6 separate regions of the Homo sapiens genome follow, and all the other regions are linked to region 1. Evidence: fine-mapped expression QTL. A gene starts in region 1. Each other region holds a variant in brackets. All regions are shown on one strand. Distances are between the middles of the regions.

Region 1 (4,088 bases):
GGTCTCTTTGTGTGATAATGACCTACACATGGACAGGGTCCAAACCATCTGGAAGATGTCTGATTCCAGGCTGAAAAGCAGTTCTCAACAAAACTGGTCTTCTGCAGCCACCACAAAGCACCAGGAAAAGGGCACCTCCGCGGCCATCCCCAGCCAGGCCAGCACAGCGCTCCGTGCCCGCTGAACCGTCCCAGGCAGTCCTCTGATGACCCAAACCACCACCACCTTTGGGCCCAGAGCAGGACAAATGAAATTTCAACAGGGGCCTGCCCTGTGACCGAAAATTACTCAGCTTCACAGCCCCTGAATGCAAGGAGAGGTGGTCCCCCCAGAACCAACATGCCCCCCAAGGTGGGTACGCCCACGGTTCTGGGAAATGCATACCTCAGGTAATTCACAGGTGCGATCCCCCAGTGGAGGCGGGGCAGCCTGAACTTCTGGCCCTGCAGGAGTGGGAAGAAATCGCTTTTGTCTTTCCGACAACTGAGCCTTCCACCTGGGGCTGGGAGGGCGGACAGCAGGACCGGCTCTTCCACTCCCCACCGCGGCCCCCCGACCTGGTCAGTAGCTCTGGCGTTCAGACAAAAGGTCCCCTGAGCTGGGGGTGGGGGGCAGGTCGAGAGTAGGCCGGTAAATCAGACTTCGCAGCTCCTTAAGTCACCAGTCCTGCATTTGGGTGCAGAGATTCCGTTTTAAAAATTCGAAGCATCGCTTTGGTTCGCTCTTTGTTCGCGGGCGCGGGTTCTCGCTCATCCATCCATCCATCCATCCAACCATCCATCCATCCATTCATTCTTTCTTGACGCACTCGCTCGCTCCCCGGTCGCTCCGGGCGCATTACCGCTTCTTCTTCTGCTTGAGGGACTTCCTGCGTTTCAGGATCATCTCATAGAGCTTGTCCATGCCCTCGGTGAGGCCCTCGCCGATGATGGCGCACGCCGGCTGGACGTGATAGGTGGTGGCCGGGATAAGCTCGTGCAGCGCCAGCTGCTTCTCAATCTCTGCCACCGGCAGCGACTTGGGCAGGTCCTGCTTGTTGGCGATGACCAGCAGCGGCGTGCCCTGGTTCTCGGCGAACTTGGTCACCTTGTGCAGCTCCGTCTTGGCCTCCTCCAGCCGGTCCACGTCCACCGAGTCCACCACGTAGATGATGCCGTCCGTGCAGCGGCTGTAGGACTTCCACAGCGGCCGCAGCTTCTCCTGGCCGCCCACGTCCCAGAAGTGGCAGCTGATGCCCTTGGCCGTGCCGTTGCTCAGCTTGATCTTCTCGGTGTTGAAGCCGATGGTGGGCACCGTGTTCACGAACTCGTTGAACTTGAGCCGGTAGAGCACCGTGGTCTTGCCGGCCGAGTCCAAGCCCAACATGACGATATGCAGGGACTGGAAGGCCGAGATGTTAGAGGAGATGTTGCCCATGGCTCCTGGCTGCGGCGCCAGCCACTGCGGCTGCGGCGGGAGGGCGCCGCCCCCCGAGCAGTCACGGGCCCGACGCGGCCGGGCGCACCTGGGCCCCGCCCGCCGCCGCCCGCACCGGCCCCGGGGCTCGGCGTCCCCGCGGGCGCACGGCTTGGCGCGCTCAGACGCCGCAGTCCCCGCGCCCTCGCCGGCCGGGCTCGCGATCGGCGGGCATCGCGTCTCTACGCGCGGCTTTGTCTCCCGCGAAGCCGCCTCAGATGTTCGGCGCCCTCCCCAGGCCTGGGCTCGCTCTGTGGTTTCCTCGGGCCGCGCCCCCGCGCTCCGGCAGCTGCCCGGGCTCTCCGCTCTCCCGGCGCCCGGCGCTCGCCTCTGGCCTGGGACGGCGCTGCTCCTGCTCCTGCTCCCGCTCCCGCTCCCGGAGCGCGGGCTTCCCCGGGAGTCGCTGTCCGCTCGGCAGCCTCACAGTCCCCGCGCCGCCGCAGCAGCCGCCAGCCTGCAGCGGCCGGAGAGCTCCCGGACCCGCCCCCTCGCGCCCCGCCCCGGACCCGCCCCCGGACCCGCCCCGGGCCCCGCCCCGCCCGCCGCCGGGGGTCAGGCGCGGTCCTCCCCGCCCAGCCGGCCGTTTTCGCGCGCTTCGCTGCGTCCCCGCCGCCCCCCGCCGCCCCCCGGCCCCTCCCGCGCCGCGCCGCGCAGACACAATGGGCGCGGAGCCGGCTCTTCCTCCCCAGCGGCTGACGCGTTTGCAAAAATAGCTCTCGGCTCCCGGAATCCCCGCCCGGGTCCTAGCCCGCCCCCTGCCCCTCCGGGCCGCAGCCGTGGGCGACGCAGCCTGCCTGAGGGAGTGGGTCCCGGGGTCCCAGCTCTGTGGGCGCGAGGCGGGGCAGGGCGGCCCCCAGGGTGACTGGGAGAGCGCCGCTCTGGGGAGTGAGGGCGGCGAGGCTGGGGCCTCCAAACCCCAGAAGGGACGGGACGGGGCTGGCCTCGGTGAGCTGCCAGCCTGCGCTCTGGATCCAGCCGGGCGCGTCCCCTCCCACCCTCGCGCCGCGGCTGTCGCCGGCCCCGGCCCCCAGTGACGCCCAGGCTCGCCTCCTGCCTGGGTTCCAGGGGGCTGCACCCGGCCAGCGCCGCCCTCCGGAGCCCAGGCCTGTGCCCAGGGCACCCTGGAGGCCCAGCCTTTCTTGCCCGGTGGCGGCGGTTGGGGCAGGGTCGGACCTAGGCCGCGATGGGGGATTAGAAGACCTACCTGCCCCAAGTAGCTCGGACAGCTCACCCTCCCAGACACGCCTGGGCTACCTCATTTCGTCCGCATCGACTCTGCTGACATCCCAGGGGAAGCGTCAGCATTTCGGGAGAGCACCCCTTGCCACCCGACTTTGGGAACTGAGAACCACCTGCCCGCAGGTGAACTACTCCGCAGAAATGGCAACACCAGCCCCGGGGGCTGAAAGAAAATGTGTCTACAGCTTGGAGCTGGTGGCGCAGTGGGTTACAAACACTGATATTCCACGGGTTCCACCTCCTGTCACCTCAGTTCAATGGTTTTATTCTGGTTTGTAAACATGTAACAAATGTATATCCTCTCTGGGTGCGGAGAAAAGTGAGAGTATATTATGGCAAACACACAGATCTGGGGAGAGCTGCTCCGCAGGAGACAGCAGGCCGCAGCATGGGCGACCGCATCTTCCCAGCTCTAGCTTATGAGACAGAAACGACGGAAACGGGGTCAAGGGAGAAGAAAATGAAAATGCTAAGAATTTATGAATAAAAGCTAGAATTTTAGAGAAATACTTTATCACCTTCTGTTCACAAACCACGAAAAGACATATGATATCGTTGGTACCAAAGCATGTGAGAAGACCTCACCTGTAGAAGGAAGGACAAGCCACCACCACCCCTATCCTTGGAATTCCCAAGGTGGCAGCCGGAGCGACCATCCACTCTACTGAGTGGATTTGGGGCTGGAAACGAAGTATCAGGCTGGAAAGGACCCTGCCTATCATTCCACCCAACGTTGTCCAGTGAGGTAACAAGGCCTAGGCGCCCGTGACGGCTAAGGCAGAACCTAGAGGCCCACTGCCTGCTCCAGGACCAAGGGTCTGTATGCACAAAACTGGGCACCTGCCTGCCCTCTTCCTCACATCCCACTCTACCCACACGCTATTTCCTTCAATGAGGAATAAAGTGAGCCACCCGAAGGATAGAGTTCAACAGAAAATATTGGCTGCACTGTGCCACTTACTTCATTTTAAATAAAAATGGAAATGTATTCACTGACATCACTGAAAAGTTAAGGATAAAGGTCCTCTTCAGGCATGGCTAGACCCAGGAGCTCAAAAGGAGTCTTTCGAGCAGGTGTCTCTCCAGTCCTCCTCCGTGTTCCCCTGTGTTGATTCTTTTTCCTTCTGGCAGCCTTGGACTCACATCCTTGGTTTAGATCCTGGAAAGGAAAAGGTACAACTCTTTCCCAGTAACTCTAACCAAAGCCTGGAGCACGCACCCTGGATCAAGGACTGCAGTCCAGGAGGAGGGAACACACCAGTGGATGTGGCCCAGGGGTTGAAATCGGGAAGGGTGGTTCTCCAAGAAGAATCCAGGATCTGTCACCAAAAGAGCAACTCTAGTGAGGCAACAGAAACAACATATGTTGGCATAATTCATAATGATGATGTTTC
Region 2 (4,088 bases), 71 kb before region 1:
ATGTTATACTTCAGGTGTCTGCAATTACCTTACCCAGGCCTATAAGCTCCTTGAGAACAGGGAACGTATTTGTCTAATTTTCAGGACCAAATGCAACATCCAGCCTCTAATTGGGGCTTAATAGGTATTTGTTGAATAAATATTTCCAGTGTCATTGATGCAATATTCTGACAAGTAGAAAGATCAAAGCTGGGAAGACGGGGGCTGGGGTGGAAGGAAAATAAATGACGTTTTGATTTTTTAAAGGAACAAAACTTTAGATAAGGCCAGTTTCAAATCATCTTGGCTTTGTTGTGTTTTCATCTCTCCAGAATTGGACTTCTGTGCTCAATTCAATGAAAACACTCAGAGCACAGATTGGGATCACGGACTTATTTTCAAAGCATGTTCCCACACATATTAACAATTGCTCAAAATTAACTGTAGCATCTGTTTAAAGTTGAATCAAATTGAATTCTCTATTTATAAAAATGGAGTTTACATAAGAGAATGGAAACCATGTACAGACATTTAGCATGACACTTCTGCTTACACCATTTCAACAAATAAAAAGAAATTATTGTTCTGGGAGAAATACACATTCCAAATCTTTGTAAAATGAAACCCTTCAAAATTAGGAAATGGAACAACTCTTTTTTTTTTTTTTTTTGAGACAGTCTTGCTTAGTCATGTTGCTCAGTGCAATGGCGCGATCTCGGCTCACTGCAACCTCTGCCTCCCGGGTTCAAGCGATTCTCCTGCCTCAGCCTCCTGAGTAGCTGGGATTACAGGCACCTGCCATCATGCCCAGCTAATTTTTGTATTTTTGTAGAGATGGGTTTCACCATGTTGGCCAGGCTCATCTTGACCTCAGGTGATCTGCCTGCCTCGGCTTCCCAAAGTGCTGGGATGACAGGCGTGAACCACCGCACCCCACCAGAAATGGAACAACTCTTAATGAGTGACATGAGCTACCAGATAAAGGAACACTATATAAATTTCAGGGTCCAGGGTCCTAGAAGTGCCTGGAGCTGAGCCCCTGCTCCCCAAGTCTGTACACATGCACCCTGGGTGCTCAAGCCACAGGCCCTGTTGTAATGGGAAGAGAGAATTCCCTCTTGCAGGAAAGCGGGCTACAAAGATGAAGGGTGGTGGGTGGCAAGAGAGGCCCGGACACACCCTGGGCCCAAGCCTCACTGGTAATGGTTGGAGGGTGGTGGGAAAAGCCATAGGAGATTCTGGGGGAGGTCACAGGGATGGGGGTGAGAGCGAGCTAAGTGGTAGCCAGTGGCGGGGCCCCTGGTGGTTGGGTTTTATTGGGAATGAGGCCGGGCAGGGAGTGACTATAAGACCCAGCTGGTCGTGGCAGAGGTGGGAAGGGAATTTAGGGAACTTGCTCTCTTGGCTTCATGTCTGGGGACACAGCACGGGTGAGGCTGGTGGGTGGGTTGACCTGCTGGTGGTCCCTTCAGACCCCTGTCCCAGTTAGTCCCTGGGGACCCGTCCCTTTGGACCTGACTCCTTGGGGTTGAGTTTCCCCTTTCACCTGGCCAGGATTTAGCATCTTCTTCTGGAGGAATGAGGAGGTTTGGGTGACCTGCCTCTTCCTCTTTCACCTGGCCAGGCTTTAGCATCTTCATCTGGAGGAACAAGGAGGTTTGGGTGACCTGCCTAGTGCCAGGGCAGGACGACTGCCACCCTGAGTCATGTTCTGCTGGTGTCTTTCAATTAGGCAGGAAAGCTCACTTCACAAGGAGCTTCTGTGTCACTGGAGTTATATGGAAATGAGGACATCAACGCAGCCCTCAGGGGCATGCGGGAAGAAGCAGAGGATGGGCCAGAGAGGGTCCTCCCTACCCTCCTCCCAGGTTTGGCCCTCTAGGCCACTCTACCCACTGCATACAGGGATGGGTGTGGTGCCCAGTTCCTCACCCTCTGGGACATAGAACTCCACCTACCCACAAAACCCACTTCCTCAGAAGCGTTAGGGCTGCCTCGGTGCCCTAACTGCAGGTGTGCAGGGCGGGGCTGAGGAAGAGGCAGTTAGGGCTGAACCCAGCAGGAGGGAAGCAAGCTCGCCCAGCTCTAGGTTTCTTGTGAACCCTCAGGACCTGCCTTTGGAGGCAGGTCCTGAGACTGCTGGAAGAAATGAAAATGATGAC[G/A]ATTACAAAGATGAAGGGAGAGAGTGTTAATGAATCACAGATCTTCCTTCCCCTATCAGGTCACCTTGTGTCAGTTTAACAATGACCACCCCCCCCCCAAAAAAAAAAAGCCACACACACACACACTGAGAAGGGAAACACTTTGTTTTTCTGCACTGTCTGAGCTCCATCAGATAATGGAACTGCTGAGCTCTCTGTTCTGCCACTCCACATTGATGGATTTCATGGCAGAGTAACACTTTGGAAATGAAAGTTTCTCTTCTACTTCCTAAGTGAGGGAGACCCAGAATCCAAGAAAGGATCCTTGGCTCAGGAAATCATCTGCCATCGGTGGCCAGGGGCAGCTGGAGCGTCAACATCTAACCTGTGGGAAGATGTACCCTCTGCAATAGGCCCCTCTGCCCCATCCCCAGAAGTCCCCAAAAGTTTCCAGGAGTGTCAACAGATGGGGGAGGGATCAGCCACTCTCACCCTCTGAACTGTGAGGGTTTCTCTTCCCATTTCTCTAGGAAGCAGTGGCCATGTTGTTGCCCAAAGCAGATGTCAAAAGAGAAACTTAGAAGAGGCTTCTGAGACTAGCAACCCTCCCACTCAGGATGGAACCAAATTCAGGGAGCACGTCTCCCCACACAGCTGAAATTAATGCAGAGGTGAACGCCTTCTCCCTCGGAAGCAGAGCAAGAATGATTCTTGATTACACTGAGCCTATGGAACAGCCCCCACTGTTCAAGAGCCAAGATTAGTGTGAAGCACCTCTCAATCATTTAAGATTTGATTGTTTAACATGAGGCTGGGTGGGTTCGTCTCAGTGCTGATGTCAACAATCGACCCCATCGTCCACATGGCTCCCTGGGTTGCACCATGAGCCAGCCACTGCTGCTTCTGGGTGCCAGGCTGTCCGGCAAATCCTCTGACCCCCGTCTCTCCCTTCTAGATTTTTCTGAGCTGCCACTTCCTCTCACCCTCCAGGCAGGCAGAGCCTGAAACCCCCTCTCTCAGAAAGGGTTGCATCAAACTCATTTGATGCACACAAATTCACCGAGGGAGAATCCTTTGACAAGCAGGCTCTGGGGCCCTGGGGCTGGGGCTTGAGAGCCTGGGTCTCTAACACACCCAGCAGTTGCTGATGGCGGGGCCAGAGCTGGAGTGGCCAAGGTTTTAGAGCAGTACTTATGGTGGGTCTCTCTCTAGCTGGGCCATCCTTGAGGCCATCCTCTTCATTTCAGATCAGTTTGCCCCCTCCCCATTTCTCAAAGCTGCTTACTGTTTGCTGGAAGGGAAGGCTGGACTCCTCCACCCCACCTTCCACCCCCACCTTCCTTTCCCCTCCGCCCCACACCCGTTTCTCTGCTCCCTAGTCTGTTTCCTGTACAACTTTAGGACATGGCCTTCATTCATGTTACCTTTCTGTTGTTGTTTTTTTATGAGCTTTAGTTAAGATAACTAATTGCTGCAGACAAAACCAGCTCAAAACAATTTAATCCACACTTTGAGAGAGGGAGAAAGAAATGCACTCTGCAGAGGAATCTGAAGAATGTAGAGAACCATCCAATCAACGACTATTCCAAGCATTTCCCTGAGAATGCAAACTTCCACCCACCTCAAGCCCTCCAGGAACTTGCCATTTTCACCACATCACTATGCAGCGTCACACCAGGAAGTACCCAGAAAACTTCGCACGATCCTCCGGAAGCCTCACCCCTTATCGGTGACCACCCTTCTGCTATATCCAGTCTTTTTCTCAGCATAAGTGTTTTACATACTTGATATCAGAGTGTAATTTAAAATCTATTTCTTGACTTTTTTACTTAATAAGTTTTTAACTGTCACTAAAAATTCCTGAAAAAATGTTGTATAACTCTTTCCGTTATTTACTTAATCATTTCCCTATTGTTGGAGACATAGAATCCAATTTAGGATTTGTTTTGTGGAAGGTTTCTTTGTTGC
Region 3 (4,088 bases), 330 kb before region 1:
CCCATTTCTTCTCCTATTTCATTTACAACAAAGGATCACAGTGATTACCTTACCTGGAGACCCACTCGGGAGCCCTGGAGCCTCAGGAATAAGGGGGAGAAGACTGAAGGAGACTAGCCCGGGCAACACCAAATCCAACTGGAAGCCACGGAGGCAAAGGCTTCGGTCTCGTGGGCACCGGTCCCACCTAGGGATGAACTCAGCTGTGAGCCAGACCTGGGTCACCAATGCCAAGACACTGAGGCTCTCTATATGGTGACCTTCTTATGACCTTGGCCGTGTCCTGGGGGAGGATTTGTGAGTTTCTCCATGTAGGTGACTAAATCACAAAAGAGACAAGGCACCTTGAAGGCCTACTGGGGCTTTGATTACTTGAGGGAAAGACCACCCCTTGCAGGCCTTGGGCAAAACCTTTAGCTTCTGAAACACACAGCAGGGGCAGTTGTCCCATCAGAGCAGCCCAGTGGTGCAGCGCAAAGAAAGGCTTGATTTTGAATACTGGCTCTGCCACTATGAGCAAGTCATGTAGCCCTTCAGAGTCTTTGCCTCCTCATCTGTCAACTGGGCTAACGGCACTCAGCTGAGAGTCTGGTACTGGGGTAAACGAGCCGCTGCGCCGTGACTGCACCGTGAGGGCACTGGGGTGATGGCTGGCACGTGGTTTCCTGCTTCCTCTGAGGCCAGTGCCAGGTCTCAAGGGATGGCTGTCAGGCACAGATTGAATATAAGGGGGAGGAAGAAAGTTCAGTTCCCCTTTGAGATTTATCTCACCTCTTTTTTCAGCTGTTTTGCTCTTGTGACTACTCTTGGGGTCCGCTGAACTGGAACCTAAAAGCCAGGAGCTGAGAAAAGCCTGGGGGCGAGGCTTTAAAATCGCATTGCCAACTCTGCACTGATGGATAAAAGTAGGTGACTCAGAGGTCCATGGAGATCATGGGCGAGCAGCCGAGGGTCCATGGAGATCATAGGGAAGCAGCCAAGGCTGCATCCATCCCTCGGGTTCCCTTTCTTTTTTTTTTCCTTTTTGTTGTTTTTAGGGGTACATGTGCAGGTTTGTTATATGGGTAAATTTCGTGTAGCAGGAGCTTGGTGTACAGATTATTTCATTACCCAGGTGATAAGCGTAGTACCCAACAGGCAGTTGATCAGTCCTCACCCTCCGCCCACCCTCCACCCTCCAGTAGGCCCCGGTGTCTGTTGTTCTCTTCTCTGTGTTCACATGTACTCAGTACTTAGCTTGCACTTATAAGTGAGAACATGTGGCATTTGCTTTTCTGTTCCTGTGTTAGATTTCAGCTTCCATTGCTCACAGTGTCCCGCCCACCCCCCACCCCCCAAGCCCCCCCTCCCCATCCCCACTTGTCTTCCCCTCCAGGAGGCACCATCACCGGCCCTGTTTCTGTGGATGCCCCAGGGCTGGATGGGGACACCCAGGCCCTCCCCTTTCCTGTGCCTGTTATTCCGGTTCTCAGCCTCGCTCAGCCTTCCTTGTAGCAAGCCACTAGCTCTTCTCCTTGCTTCCATACTTGCCTCCAATCAACCCAACCCCCTTGCTCGGCCTAGTCAGTAAATATCTGAGAAAAATATTTCCGAGCAGCCATGGATTGAAAG[G/A]CAAAGAAAACATTGAAAGGCTCACATTCTGCAGCTGTGGGAGACCACATTGAACATTCCACCCATTCTCTCTCAGATAGATGCAAGGCCCATAACTTATTCTGGTCTAGTTATTCAATTTGTGGTTCTACCAGAGTAATTCCATTTCCCATGCTCTCAGAAATATTTTAGAACAAGAACAAAAATAACCTTATGTATGTGCACACATACACGCCACCCACAAGACAAACTGGATGTGTATAGAAGATTGCTCGACTTGGCTCTGGAACACTTTTAGATGGTATCACTTTATTACACAGTGATGGGGGTCCCACATGTGTTTCTAGGTAGCATCTGGTTTACTAATAAGAGTTTGAGCTGTTTAGGGAAAGAATCGGGACATGAAGGAGTTGGAGATATTTATGTCTAGAAAGAAAAGACTTGTTCATGTGCACCCTGGGTGTGCAGGGTGCAATGGGAACTGGAGGTGTGGTGAATAAAGACCATGACTCTTTGAAAAAAACTGGAAGAGCTGCCATGTGGCAGGCACACAGACTGACTTTACCATAGAGACAGGTTGTGAGTGATGGGAAGGCAGATTTTTGTTAAATATAGAGAACAATGTTCTAATAACTATTGCTATTAAGAAACAGAATGGATTACTTTACGAGGCATGGAGTCTTCTGTTCCTAAAAGTGTTTAAGCTGAGACTAGAATTCTGCTTTGGTTATCTGTTGCTGTCCAAAAAAATTAACCCTAAACTTACTGACTTAAACAAAGCCTTTTTAATTTATTTTCTCATGATTCTGCAATCTGGGCAGGGCTCGGCAGGGGCAGTTCATATGGCATCATCTGGGTGGCTTGAGTGGGGCTGAGGGATCCACTTCAAAGATGGCCTCACTCATAGCTGGCAGGTTAGTGCTGATTGCATCTAGAAATTCAGCTGGGGCTGTGGGCTGGAGGCCTCAGTTTTCCTCCATGTGGCCTCTGCACATAGTTAGGCTGGCTTCTCAGAGCATCATGGTCACAGGTAGTTCTTATGCTGTGTCTACCTTCATCCAGACAGAAGAGAAGTTGCTAGGCCTGATTGACGTTTAAGCCCAGAACTGGCGTAGCTTCACTTCTGCAACATTCTGTTGGTTGAAGCAGGGTCACTGGGCCAGAGCAAATTCAAAGTGAGAGAACCACATAAAACGTGAATACATCATTGGAGTCCACCAAAGTTATGCTTTATCACAATGCCCAACTAGCTTTATAATACAGAACATTCATTTTCTGGGTAGAAGGTTGAAATGAGTGATCATTGATGCTTCTTGGAACTCTAAAACTCTCTGGTTAAATTTCTTTTCAACCTCCAGTGCCTAGTACAATCACAGGCACATCATGATCATTAAAACAGTACTTATTGATTGATTGATTTCACACATTTTATATTTTCAAGCTGAGACAGGGCCTCAGTCAATATCTCACAGGAACATAGCTCTCTGCAAAATAGAATGCCATTTCAAGCCAACAAATGATTACTCTTCATGCTGTAGATACAAACTTGGTCCAAAGTAATTCGTTTTGCAAATGCTGTTTTTAGACACACACGCACAAATCACTCTGGTTTATAAAATCCATGGCACAATGTAAGGAAGGATGGGAAGGTATATGCTGTTACATTACATGTATACTTTGCTACCTGAATTGGTTTTTTTTAAAGGTAAAATTTCTGTTTATTATCAATGTAAAACACACTCACTATGGCAAATGTATATGAAAATGAGCACACAAAAAAGAAAAAGAATCACTTATAATGACTTATAGGTAACTACTCCAAACTTTTTATGCATATTTTAATATAGATTAACCTAATAGGTTTATATTATTATTTCATTTAACTTCACCGTAACTTATTTTCTATGATACTAAAAAATTCTATATTGAAATAATATATTTTGTGTCAAAATATTTAATAATATTAAAATCCTTACACTTTTTTTTTTCAAGATGGAGTCTTGCTCTGTCATCCAGGCTGGAGTACAGTCACGCAATTTCAGGTCACCCCAACCTCCGCCTCCCGGGTTCAAGCAATTCTCCTGTCTCAACCTCCCGAGTAGCTGGGATTACAGGCACACACCACTACGCCTGGCTATTTTTTGTATTTTTAGTAGAGACGGGATTTCACCATGTTGACCAGGCTGGTCTCAAACTCCTGACCTCATGATCCACCCGCCTTGGCTTCCCTAAGTGCTGGGATTACAGGTTTGAGCCACCATGCCTGGCCACAAATGCTTTTTAATTATTGCAAAATATATATAATTCTGCCATATGGAGATACCATAATTTACTTATTGTGCTTATCTTAGGTTTAAAATTGTTTAAAAATTGTTAACACTAAATATCATCATATTATACATTTTTCTGCATAAAGACTTATTTAGAAATATGAAGGGGTGGGTTGCCCCTCCACACCTGTGGGTGTTTCTCGTTAGGTGGAATGAGAGACTTGGAAA
Region 4 (4,088 bases), 200 kb before region 1:
TGTACTATCTACCTGATTCTAGAATCTCTCAAACCTGCCCTAATCTGCCTGTACCAATGGGCTCTGGAGAATGTCCTGATGTCACCAGATTCATGCCTGAGATGAAAGCCTTAGGATTCAAGAGCCCAGCTCTGTCCTTCTCCAATGCAGCCTCAAACCTCCTGCTGTTCCTGGCCCCGTGCTAGCATCCCCTTCCCACCATCACAGGATACCCTAAAGGCCCTGATAACAGACATTTCCATATTACTGGGCTCACGCCTTCATGGTGGACCTCCTGGAGGTGGGCATAGCCCATGCCCAGGTAGAGAGGAGCAGGAAGGCATGGGCATGTTTGGGGAGGTTGAGAGAGACCAACCTGGCTGCATCAGATAGAGAGCACCAGTGGCTGGTCTGGCTAGGAATCCAGGTCGGGGCCCTAGAGTGGCCACATTTACTTGCTTTTGCTAAGGTAATTTCAGGTTTGGTAAGGCAATGAGTGAAGATCTGTTGGGCAGGTGGTCTCTTGGTGCCCTGTAATCACGTACTTGAGTCTGCCTCCCTCATCTCACCCCAGTGGTGACTCATAAATCAACACCAAAGCCAGTTACGCTGCCATCCGGCAGAACTCGTGCCCCAGACACCTTGGGAGGAAGTGGAGCCAGAAGTGAGAACACTCTCTGAGGGTGAAAAAACTCCAACAGTTCTTCTGTTCTCACGCCGCGCCACAACAATCAACACAGAAGGCTTCTACGACCAAATGTGTGGGGATTTCTCCCCACCACCGAGCAAACTGCCCAGACATGGACACCGGCATGAACTGGGGGTCCTCCAGTTAAGTTCTGACACTCTCTACCTGGAGACAGCGTCAGATCCCAGGGGTTGGGGGCTTAGTCCCCCAAGACCACCCCTGACCTTCAGACATCACTCACTAGTACAGGCCTCGGGAACTTCTGACAACCAGCTATAAATTGATAAAGACCCCCTCTTTATTAATTTGCTAGGGTGGCTCGCAGAACTCGGGGAAACCCTTAGGTTTACCATAAAGGATGTTACAAAGGATACAGATGAAGAGATGGATAGGCGAGGTATAGGGGAAGGGGTGCGGAGCTTCCATGCTCTCCCTGAGTGTGACTCTCTCCGGGAACCTCCATGGGTTCAGCTACCTAGAAATTCTTAGAACTGTGTCCTTTTGGGTTTTCATGGAAGCTTTGTGACATAGGCAGGATTGGCCATTGATGGTCAACTTAACCTTCAGCTTTTCTCCCCTCCCTGGAGTTCAGGGTGGGGCTGAAAATCTCAACCCTCTAATCCTGCCTTGGTCTTTCCAATGACCAGCCTCACCCTGAAGCTACCTAGGGGCTGCCAGCCATCAGCCAACTCATCAGCATTCAAAAGTACATCACTTTGGAGATTCTAAGGATTTTAGGAGGTGTATGTCAGGAAATGGATTCAAAGGCCAAATATTTATCTCATAATATCACACTCCTAAACTCATAGGACACTGGCAAGGACACCAAGCTCAACTCCTCCCCATTTCTGAATCCCTGGGCTCCATGCTGCGCCTATGGCTGCTGCACAGTTGTTCTGAAGGGGCCCTGGCCTGCATGTGCCTGATGCACACAGCTGGAGGGTGTCCTGCAGAGATGGGACCATTAGCTGGCAGGCATGTGTGGTGGAGGGGACAGGGGAGCACGTGCCATAGTTCGATTTATTTTTAGGTATGTGGGAGTCACTAAAGGCAGTAAGCAAGGGTGTGATGTAATCAA[T/C]TGTGCATTTTAAAGTGATTGCTCCAGCTGCCTGTGGAGAATGGATTGGAGAAGGGCCAAAGGGCACTCAGGGGCGTCAGCTGGGAGGCTGTGCTACAGTTCCCAGGAAGGATGTGGCTGCAACAGTGACAGAAAACACATAAACAGGGCAATGGACTATAGGGTGTTCGTGCAACCAGACACACCCAGCCAAGAGTATCTCACCTCCTGCAGGTCAGATGCAGACACCCTCTAACCACTGGCATTTTGGCCTCTGGAATGAGCCTGGTGGTGATAAAGTCTGGAGGGCCACAGGTGACCATATGAGCCACAGGATGCCTCAAGACCAGAGACATCCTCGCAGAATCAACAAGAGGAGAGCAAAGGACAGGAAGAGACTCAGGCAAAACTTTTGTCTGCACAACCAATTCCCATCTTCACCACCTGAACGCCACCCCAGATGACATATATGGGGCTGCTTTTGCCATCCACATGGCTAGGACAGTGTATCTGTAGTTGTCAACAACAATCAGAGGACCATATCAATTAAACCAGGAACTTTTCCATGTCGTTTCGACTGAATCATATAAAGGTAGACAACATCGCACTATGTTGGTGCACAGAGCACTCTGAAATGATTCATTTTTCGCTCCTTTGAGGCGAAGGCAAACCTACAAGCAGAACAAACCGCATCCGGAGAGGAAGTGATAAAGCTCAGAGGAGCAGCAAGAATAACCATGGCGACAATCTTGCAATTTAGAGGCTGCAAATAAGAGAGATATTTACTTTGGAAATGCAACTGAAAAAAAGAAAAGCTGCAATGACAACAGCATAGCAACAATCTTCTCCTCTGGGCTCAATGAAAAAGAAATGACAAGACAATGAACCATCTCCAGGGGCTGTATGTAAATCCAAGATTTCCTTTTGACATAACAGTGTGAAAGATCATCAGTGAGGAAGGTGAATCATTCAGGCTTTTAAAATAGCTTTTTATTTTGAGATCTTGTAGATTCACCTGCAGTTGTAAGAAATATTATATTCTGTGTACTCTTCACCCAGTTTCCCCCAGTGATAACACTTTGCATGAGGAAATTGACATTGAAACAATGGTTCAGTTTTGAGGAAGTATCAGATATCAAAGAGATACTTTGTCATGTTTGGATAAAAATGTAACACTTCTGTATTAAAAAAAAAAAACTAAAATTACAAGAAAACCAAACAGGAAAAAAAAAAAGCTTTTTTATTAATCCTAGCAAGGAGTTTATTCTATACAATGCGTATGTTCACATTTACAAGAAAAACAGTGGCCTTTGAAAATATTTTGATGGCCTGTAGAGTTATAACCAGAATCACTGCAATGCAGTAATATTTAAAGAAATGTATGAGGCAACACTGGATGAATTTACTGATTGAGATGTCATTGTTTTGAGGAATTATTGTTTGTGGCCTTTCTGAAATCCTCCATCACTACCTTTTACATTCAGGAACTCATCAGGCCCTTCCAGCATTACATTATAAGAAATATAGTGTATCATGCCTGTAATTCCAGCACTTTGGGAGGCCGAGGCAGGTGGATCACCTGAGATCAGGAGTTCAAGATCAGCCTGATCAACAGGGTGAAACCTCATCTCTACTAAAAATACAAAAAAAATTAGCCAGGCATGGTGGTGGGTGCCTGTAATCCCAGTTACTCAGGAGGCTGAGGCAGGAGAATCACTTGAACCCGAGAGGCAGAGGTTGCAGTTAGCTGAGATCATACCACCGAACTCCAGCCTGAGCAACAAGAGCTAAAACTGTCTTTAAAAAAAAAAAGAAAGAAAGAAATATAGTGTATCTTTTTCCTGATTCATTCATTCAACAAATATTTATATACTACTATTGGCCCACTATTTTCTTTAGGGGAAAACAGGAATGGCCCCCCCAGAAAGCCCTCTGGGGAGCTGAAATTCTAATCCATTATTGGTTTTGTCTCAACTATAATTGCCCTTGTTTAGAATTTCATCATCTTCCAGAGGAGTCGCCCTCTGTACAGTCTTTCCCCACCCCTCAGTTTATTCTCTGCATTGCTGATCCTTCCTCAACAGACACTGCTAATTATGTCAGGTTTAGGGTCAAAATCCTTCCCGAGTTTCTATCACTCACGCCCCCGACTTCCACAGGGGGCAGTTCTGAGCTCCTCTGTGGCTCTTAGTCATCCATCCCCTACCTTCCTGTGTACCTCCTCATTCATCCACCTTCTTCTCTGCCCACACAGCTGGCCCAGGCTTCCTGTCCAGGTGCATGGTCCTCCTGTGCCAGGGGATGAGTTGGGGGCTGGGTTGGGAGGGCTCCTCTTGCCTTTCTGCCTGAAGAAGCCCTACTCAT
Region 5 (4,088 bases), 59 kb before region 1:
CAGAGACCTGGAAGTTGCTGCAGGGGCTGTGGGAGGGCTGAGGGGTGACGAGCTGCAGAATCAGGTTCCTCCCAGGCAGGCGGGTCTGGAGAAACCACACCAGAATGCCTGTGGCGCCGCTCCCCCCGAGTCCCTGCTCCTTCTCCCTTGCATAACAGGGCCCTGCATGTTGGCCCAGGTCAGTGCACACACTTGGGCTGCCCCACTGGAACCCTTAGGCACCACACAGTGTATGGGGGAGCCCTGGAGTCCCTGTGCTGGCTGTCCTGAGCCCCAGACCCCACACGGACACCGAGTGGGACGGTGCAGTCGCTCCACATCCCTCCACACAGAGGCCACTTTGTGGCGGGTTCCACCTGCCCTCTCTCTCCTTGACTTGCTTCTTTCTTTGTCAAGCAGTGCACTGTCTTGAACTCTAACATCAAAGTATTTCTTTGACCTGTCCTCCATCTGAGTATAAGTACCACAAAGACAAGCATTTGTTTTGTTTACTGCTTTTTCCCCGGCTCCTAGAATCACCCCTGGTATATAGTAGGTGCTCAATAAAGGTTTGCGGGGGGAAGAAAGGTAAGAAAGATGGAGGGAAGTCAAGAGAGAGGGAAAGGGAAAGAGTGGGGTTTGTTGGTTCCTCCTTGAGTGATACCACCCACCCTGGGAGAAGCTGAAAGCTCCACATGCTGTCCCTCCCCAGTGACAGGGACCATCCACGCTGTGGCCTCCAACTCAGCTGCCTCCCTTCATAGGCATCAGCCTTGGCTCTGAGCCTCACCCTGGCCTCTTCTCCCTGTGGGTGCCCCTGCTCATGGTACCCGAGGGAACACCACCAGCAGAGAGTGCAAGAAGCAGACCAAGTGAGGACCTTCAAGCATGCATAACCACAGGCACCATGGCACTGCTTCTCTTGGTGGAAGAGAGAGCAGGGGAGAGTGGTGTCCCCCGTATTTGGTTCCTATAAATTCTCCTGATCTGTCTGCATTCACAGGCTGGGAAAGACCCTCAAACGGGCTGCAGTGGCCACCCTAAGAAGTGTTCTTCTTCTGCTTCAGACCCATTTCTTTCAGGACCATAAGCAGCTCTGCTCCTCATCTCCCACGCTGTAGACAGGGATCCCTGGTTGGCACTGTTTTCTCTGTCCCTAGGATGCCCGTGTCCTTTGGCTGCAGGCTCCCACCACCCAGCCCTTGCTCCCTGCACAGGGTGGTACTCAGTGAATATGTGGTAGCTCTTCTTGGGTTGAAGAAGAGAGGGCAGAAGAAAACCTGCCCCTCCACTTGCTTTCTTGCAGTGGCTTGTCTCAGCTTGAGTGCTTCCCTTCCCAACTGACCACATCTGAGGCTTTGCTTTGTGCTCCATCCATTCAAAACCAAGCGACCAAACGATGCTTCCCTTGGGGATTTTCTTTAGAACAAAGACCATTTTCATCAGCACTCTTTTCTCCCGCTCCTGGGTTCCTTCCACCTTTCATGAACTGAGCCCCCTTCTGAAGTAAGGCGTGGGCACCCTGAATGGAAATGGCTAGATTAATGCGCATGCATGTCCACACTGGTGCAGGGCACCTGCTTTTCTGGGACAATTGCCATCTGGAATCAGACGCCTTCCTCATTGTGTGCCTATTTCTGGACAAAGAAGAGGAGAATTGGACGAGAAGCAGGCCTCCTCTCCCACATCCTCCAGCCACCTGGCAGGCCCGACTAAGACACCCGCTCCAGCTCAGGTGGTTTATGTGGCTCCAGTGAGTGGGGCAAGTGGGGCGTTTCATCCCAACCTTCTGCATAACAGCATTAGCAGATCAGACACTCAGGTCTGGGACAACATGTCCTGAAGGGCATCTCTGGGTTCCCCCTCCAGGGCCTTGGGTGCTGCCCTGCCTCCTCTGCTGAAGGCTGCCTACCCCCCACCGCCAGAGCAGCAGAGTTCCCTTCAGTAGCTTTCAGGGACTGGAAGGATAGTGGGCTGCCTCTCCCCACAGGTAAGGCTACCGTTGGTCTCCTGGCTCTCGGCGGGCTGGGGGCCCATCCCTGGATAGCAGCTACGGGGAAAGACATGGCTCTGGAGATGGAGGCGAGAGTCAGATGCTGAGACCTCCAACAATGTCCGCTTGTGGAGGCTTTACTATTTATAACACTTTTGTTTTCTACAATGAATAGATAATGCTTTTAGAACAGAAAAGTGAAACGTAAATCAACTCCGCAAGAAACAGGAAGCTCAAAATTTAGATCCGAATAAGTCTTTCCACCCAGGGCTGGTCTAG[G/A]GATAGAAGAAAGACTAATGTTTTTGGTAGGAGAGGAAATGGAGGTGAGGGGCTGTGCTGGAGAAGTCAGCCTGCGGGGGGCGGGGGCAGGCGGGGTAGAATTTCAATTCTGCTCTCAATCTTGTTTTCTTAGAATACAATAAAATATTTTCACATAAGATACTGGTCTGGAGGGCAGGCGTGGTGGCTCATGCCTGTAATCCCAGCACTTTGGGAGGTCAAGGCGGGTGGATCACCTGAGGTCAGGAGTTCAAGACCAGCTTGACCAAAATGGTGAAACCCCGCCTCTACTAAAAATGCAAAAATTAGCTGGGTGGGGTGGCGGGCGCCTGTAGTCCCAGCTGCTCAGGAGGCTGAGACAGGAGAATCGCCTGAATCCGGGAGGTGGAGGTTGCGGTGAGCCAAGATCGTGCCATTGTACTCTAGCCTGGGCAACAAGAGCAAAACTCCGTCTCGGTGAGGGGTGGAGAGAAAAGATACTGGTCTGGAGTGATTTATTTTAGAAATATCAGATTCTGTTAAGTTTTTTATAAATTGTCTTTGGGAGTGATTGAAGAAATAGTGCGATGTTTTGAATAATCCAAGATCTAAATGTAAACACAATTTAATAAAATTAGAGACAAGGAAAACTATACATGGGGAGACTATATTACTCTTGACAGGAAATCACTGTGTATGTGCAATTATATTCATGTATTTGTCATTTGTATCTATCATATATATATATATATATATATAACCTAGGGAAAGATACCATACACCTAATCAAATGAAAAGTGATAAATTGGAAAAATATTTTCAGCACATGTCAGACAAAAATATTCATATGCCTATTGTACAAGGAGATCTCACAAACTGATAAGAAAAACCGATGATCAATTAGAAGACAAGGTCAAGGGGAACAGCTCATGCTTCACTTGACTTGGTGATTCTTCAGTAACGAGGGATCCCATCCCATCCATATGAAGAGTTGGCTTCATGGGAACAGTTTGAACCCTTTTTGGTAATATGGGGAGAGGCCTGGCCCAGGGTGCTGGGGACCCCCAGTAGGATTGAAGGGAAGACTCTTGGGAGCACCCAGACAATGGCCAAAGGGGATCTGAAAGAAAAGTTTTCAGCAGCGAAGTCACAGGGGGATCAGGTGTCTACCAGGAGAATGTGGCTGGGCAGGAAGCAAGTGCACACTCTGGAGTGTAATTGAGTAGGTCAAAATCTGTGCTGTTGTTCCCTTGCCTGCAAAAATAATTCCCTTTCCCCTGTTCTCCTCCTTTTCGGAGGCTCTGTCACTGTCCCTCTGTGCCCACCTGGGCTCTCTCAGATTCTTGCTATGGGATTATCCTCGCTAGCGTCTTCCCACCATCAGCATGGACAGGAGGGATGGGTGTGCAGGCCACATGAGCCCAAGAGGAAATGGTGCTTGGGGATACAATTCTCATGAGACCAACATGTGTTTCCTATGTGAGGAGGTGGCCAGGGAACGGTGGCCATAGTCGGCAGGGAGCCTGGGTGACCACATGACACACTAGGGCTGGTAGGACTGCCCAAGGTTATAGATGGTGCTTGTCTTTACTGATGCTGGTGGGCAGCCCGTTGCTTAGTTGACCAACCAGACAAATTCCAACACCCTTAAGCCTGCAGCACTGCCCGGCTTATTTCTGAGCGAAAGTGGTTGTGACGTGACAACCTGTAGAATCATGGCATCCACCCATGCATACTATCTCAGCAATGGCACTGCTGTCTTTCCAGAGTGTAAGTCACAGGCCCACATTTATCCTCGACACCACCCTCTCCCTATGCCTCAGAGGCAGAGTGACCACAGAGTTTATTGTCCAAACTG
Region 6 (4,088 bases), 510 kb before region 1:
AAATAGTGTCCAAAAGTCAGAGGGGCCAACATCTGAGCTGCAGAGAGAAGCAGCAGGTTATGGGTGATTATGTCTCCACAAGAGAGGGAGCAAAACAGACCAATCCCAAAACCTGAAGCAAAGGCGAGGGCGAAGTGGGATGGCTTCAGGCTTTTCTTTACAGTGATAAGATGTCATAGCTACACTGGATAGTCCTGTAAGAACTCACCACTAACTATATTTACAGACATTAAACAAAAAGACCAACAGCTCCTAAAACCATGGCCTTTGAGTTATGCTAACTTGGTAAATCTCAACGAGGCACATGGTAAAATATTTAGAGCTTTTTTGAATCTATGCACATGAGCTGTCTGAAGGAGCCATTCATGAGAACCGGGCACTTTTGTAATCCATTACCTGCATTTTGATAATGAAATGATTGAATTTGGAGCTGAGAAAGATGGGAGCCTCGTCTGTCACTTTCAGGTGAAGGAGATGAAGTCCCAGCAGCTCAGCGTCTGTGGTCCTGGCCGCGCGTTATCTGGCTTAACTCAGGTCTCTTCCCCACGAGGCCAGAGCCACTGCATCACATCCTACTGTTGCCCCAGTCAGTGCTTAAGTGTGACAGCTTGCAACATCCCTGTCCTTGGGGAACCTCCTCGATTAGCTCCGGCTTAAACCAGAGGCCTTTTCCTGGCTAATACCTGTCTGGGGACACCAGAACAGCGAGAGACGCCGTGTTGTTATCCTTAGGTTAAATCCTTGGAACACTGTTTCTGATCATTTTTAAAGTTGTTCAGGGCTTACTCTGTGAGCAGATGGCCCCAGGATGTGACCCTTCCCTGGCACCACATCAAAATACTCATTTAAAAGCTTAACCATACACAATGGCAACCTTATTAACTGCAATGCAAATGTACCTTTGGGAATTCTGAAGGAGTATTGGAGTGCTCTCTAGATGGTATTCAACAGAGAAAGGAAATGGATGTGAACATCTGTGATTATTCTACATTAAAATTATCGATCACAGGGCCTGTGTGGCTTATCAGCGGCAGGAAGTGAATTTAAAGTCAGTAAATGACTCCAGGTCGACTTACCAGGAGCTAGGGCATTTATAAGCATTGTGCCCTGAAGATAAGTTCACCCCAGGCAGTTCTGAAAAGGACTCGTCAAACATGTCCTGCTGTAGAATAATTTCTAAAAATGTTTTTCAGATCTTAGGAGTAATATAAACATGCAGAAAAGTAGAAGGAAGAAAATAATGACCTGATACAAACTAAAGGTTTGAGTGCTGTGTGAACAGTCTAAGGGAGGTTATTGAATTGGGGTGAAAAGAATAGAAAGAAGAGCGCAGATAATTGTAATAGTAACAATAGCTAATATTTATTGAAGCTTTCCCATGCTGGGCACAGGTTCAAGTGCTTTACAGGGGTCGCCTCATTTAATTATTACTCATTTCTGTGTAGGTGTGTAGCCGGTGGGCTAGTTCAGGTTCTTGACTTTGGGACAGAAAATAATTTGAAAGTGAGTCAAAAGCAAAAGCAAGCAAGAGAGTTGACTGCAAAGCCAAAGTACACTCTAGCAGCCGGTCAGAACGGGCCACTCAAAGGCAAGACAGCTCTGTCTAATACTGGGGGATCTCCCTTTATGGGAAATTTGCATGATTATTCATGAAGGGGTGGTAAGGGGTGTTGCTATTAAGCATGTTAGGAGTGGTTTCTTAGGTCCACATGTGCAGTGGCTGTACATGCTAGTACATCCATCGCATGTCTTATAAGCATTTTAAATCTCCACCTGGGGGTGTGTTTTTTACTATTATAATGAGCACAGGTCAGCCCAAGGACACTAATCACGGGTTTCTGTGCTTGTACAAATGTGGGGATTTTTCTCTTCTGCTCCTGCCTTTTTGCTGTAGGGTGTTCTAACCACGAGCTCAGGATGC[G/C]GTCTGTGCACTGTTAGGTGGTTTGTTCTCTTCATCAATTTGACAAGTTTCTTGTTTCCTGTCAAGGGAGGCTCTGACCACCTCATCTAACCTGCCTCAGGTGCAGCCTTATTGCCATTTTACACGTAAGGAGTGGGAGGCAGAGAAAGGTTAAGTCCCTGATATTAAGGGAAGAGATGACATGGAAACATATGAATATAATATATATAATATAATGTAATACAAACAGCATGGAGAGGCTATTTGCAGAGGAGGGAGTTATTAATTGTGAGATTGTTGGCTGGGGGAGCCTAGGATCTGCAGCAGCAGCTAGGTGGAGGTGATGTTTGCTTGAAAGATCATGTACCCAGAGCCCCAAGTGTTGGTAGGAGAGGTAGAAGCAGGGGAGATAATGTTAGTCTAGGGAGGAATCAGCAGCCGGGGAGGGTGGAAATGTAGGCAGGGGCTAGGTTATGGAGAGTCTTTTATAGTATATTAAAGAATTTGGACTTTTTCCTGAAGTTGAAGAGAAATGTCATGGGTCTTCGTGCAAGTATATGGCACAGTCTTAGTTGGTTATTCTGTTAGCAATATACTAACCTGAATTATCAATTCCAAAATCAGTGTGATCCAATCGCTTGTCATCTCTTACTGCTGGCTGTTGTTGGCTTTGTACCTGCTTTTTTGATGTTGCAGAATGAGAGGGGAACCAGGATGTGTTACACAGTTTAACATACACACCAGCGCATCAGAGAGAGCGAAAAGTCACTGTCACCACGGGCCATGGGGCAGTACTGGCTAGATACTGCCTGTGTGCTGGGGAAGGAGCGACAAAGGAAAATCCATGAAATCTACGCAAAGTTTGGAGGAGGTGTCCATCTGATAGGGAATTAGCTGACAAGTTTCTTGTATTTCAGTGTATTTGAAAATTCTGCCATTGTTTTAGCATCTACTTTTTCCTTGTGAATTTTTTGCAGACTTTGCATTCTGTTCTGTGGATCTGTCTTTGTATTTTGGTTTTTACTACCAAATGGCTTTGATTACTGAAGTATTTTTTTCTTTTAGGCGTTCTAACATCTGTTGTACAAGTTTCCCTCATTATTCTTATTCAAAACTTTTCTGGCATTTCTTGTATATTTAATTGTACAGAGGAGCCTAAGGCTTATCTTGTGGATTCTTTCTTCTTTCTCCTTCCCCCAAAAATTCTTGTGAATATTATTATGATGATGTTAGGTTTGTAGAATCATTTAAGGGAATTTGGCATCTTACTATTGAGAAGAAATGCTATGATTTTCATTTATTCAAACATATATAATTTCCCAGTAAAGTTTTATGGTCTTTTTCATATGGATCTGGCAGATTCCTTGTTAATTTGTTTCCAGCCACTTATGGTAGGGGGAAAAAAGTAAGGTACTTTTTCTATTATGTTTTTTCAGTGACTACGTTTTGGTACGTAAGAAGGTTATTAAAGTTTTCCTTATTTATTCTGGAATGAGTCTCCTTACTAAATTACTTTTCTTTTTTTTTCTTTTTATCATGTCATGGAAAGTTCCTCCTCTTTTTTGTTTATTAAGCTCCTTTCTCTTTCTCTTCCTAATCAGAAAAGGATGTTATATGTTGCCAGAAGATTTCTAGCAGTTATTGAAATGCTATTTTTCCCTTTGATCTAGTATTATGATGCATTGTACAAAAGATGAATGACATAAATGTTCTTAATATTTAGTCATCCTATTCCATGGTCATGGTGTGTTATTCTTTTAAGGTACTTCTGGACTTCATTTATGTACAAAGTGATCTGAATTCTAAACGTCTGTTCCCTCTTGGTACCATTTCCACTCTCAGTGAGTTTCTGAACTGCTGTCCCTCTGCATGGCCTCTCCTTCCTCCTCCTCTCCTGCTCAGCTGGTTTCAGGAGATGGACCTCAGCTGTCACTGCATGTCTCCAGCCAGCTAGGTGTTTGCCAGGGACAGGACGCCAAGGGCACAAGATATCGCTGGAGATGCACAAAGGGAAAATTGCAGAATTCTCTCAGGGACAACACCAGATGGCCACTGGTTGTCAAGGAGACTTTAAGAACCATCTCAGATGGGGCGGGTGAGACCCTGGGCATGAGAGATGGTCTCTAAGCTGCTACAATGCTTGCTTTGCTGAGGGGGTGTGCACGTGCTGGCCCAGAAAATCCTTTTC

Which allele goes with the higher level. Positions count from the first base shown, and alleles are read on the strand shown. Sizes are in standard deviations (SD) of each study's normalised expression. Not every link is listed here.
For the expression in tibial nerve of the gene that starts at base 1,911 in region 1, A is the high allele of the variant in region 3 and G is the other (moderate effect, 0.51 SD a copy in GTEx).

The links.
Region 2: its variant is fine-mapped to the expression of ARL4C in whole blood (TOPMed, PIP above 0.99).
Region 3: its variant is fine-mapped to the expression of ARL4C in tibial nerve (GTEx, PIP 0.97).
Region 4: its variant is fine-mapped to the expression of ARL4C in whole blood (TOPMed, PIP above 0.99). The same link has a PIP of 0.9 or more in left ventricle.
Region 5: its variant is fine-mapped to the expression of ARL4C in whole blood (TOPMed, PIP above 0.99).
Region 6: its variant is fine-mapped to the expression of ARL4C in whole blood (INTERVAL, PIP above 0.99).

Annotation. Positions count from the first base shown.
Region 1 is chr2:234,495,171-234,499,258 of GRCh38, forward strand. ARL4C (ARF like GTPase 4C) reads right to left here and starts at 1,911. Exons shown (of 2, transcript NM_001282431.2): 1 at 842-1,911; 2 at 1-666. The coding sequence starts at 1,416. The coding sequence ends at 636. RefSeq lists silencers at 1,489-1,588, 1,699-1,988 and an enhancer at 2,173-2,946.
Region 2 is chr2:234,424,145-234,428,232 of GRCh38, forward strand. No RefSeq gene overlaps it. Among named protein-coding and RNA genes, the nearest start is that of LINC01891, 28 kb to the right of the region's middle. RefSeq lists an enhancer at 3,313-4,088. The variant G/A (reference allele first, on the strand shown) is at 2,142.
Region 3 is chr2:234,164,044-234,168,131 of GRCh38, forward strand. No RefSeq gene overlaps it. Among named protein-coding and RNA genes, the nearest start is that of SPP2, 120 kb to the left of the region's middle. RefSeq lists enhancers at 1-645, 141-641. The variant G/A (reference allele first, on the strand shown) is at 1,612.
Region 4 is chr2:234,290,245-234,294,332 of GRCh38, forward strand. All of the region lies in intron 2 of LOC105373933 (a long non-coding RNA gene), which reads right to left. Among named protein-coding and RNA genes, the nearest start is that of LINC01891, 160 kb to the right of the region's middle. RefSeq lists an enhancer at 719-768. The variant T/C (reference allele first, on the strand shown) is at 1,746.
Region 5 is chr2:234,436,547-234,440,634 of GRCh38, forward strand. No RefSeq gene overlaps it. Among named protein-coding and RNA genes, the nearest start is that of LINC01891, 16 kb to the right of the region's middle. The variant G/A (reference allele first, on the strand shown) is at 2,252.
Region 6 is chr2:233,988,797-233,992,884 of GRCh38, forward strand. All of the region lies in intron 21 of TRPM8 (transient receptor potential cation channel subfamily M member 8), which reads left to right. Among named protein-coding and RNA genes, the nearest start is that of SPP2, 60 kb to the right of the region's middle. RefSeq lists an enhancer at 1,731-1,780. The variant G/C (reference allele first, on the strand shown) is at 1,922.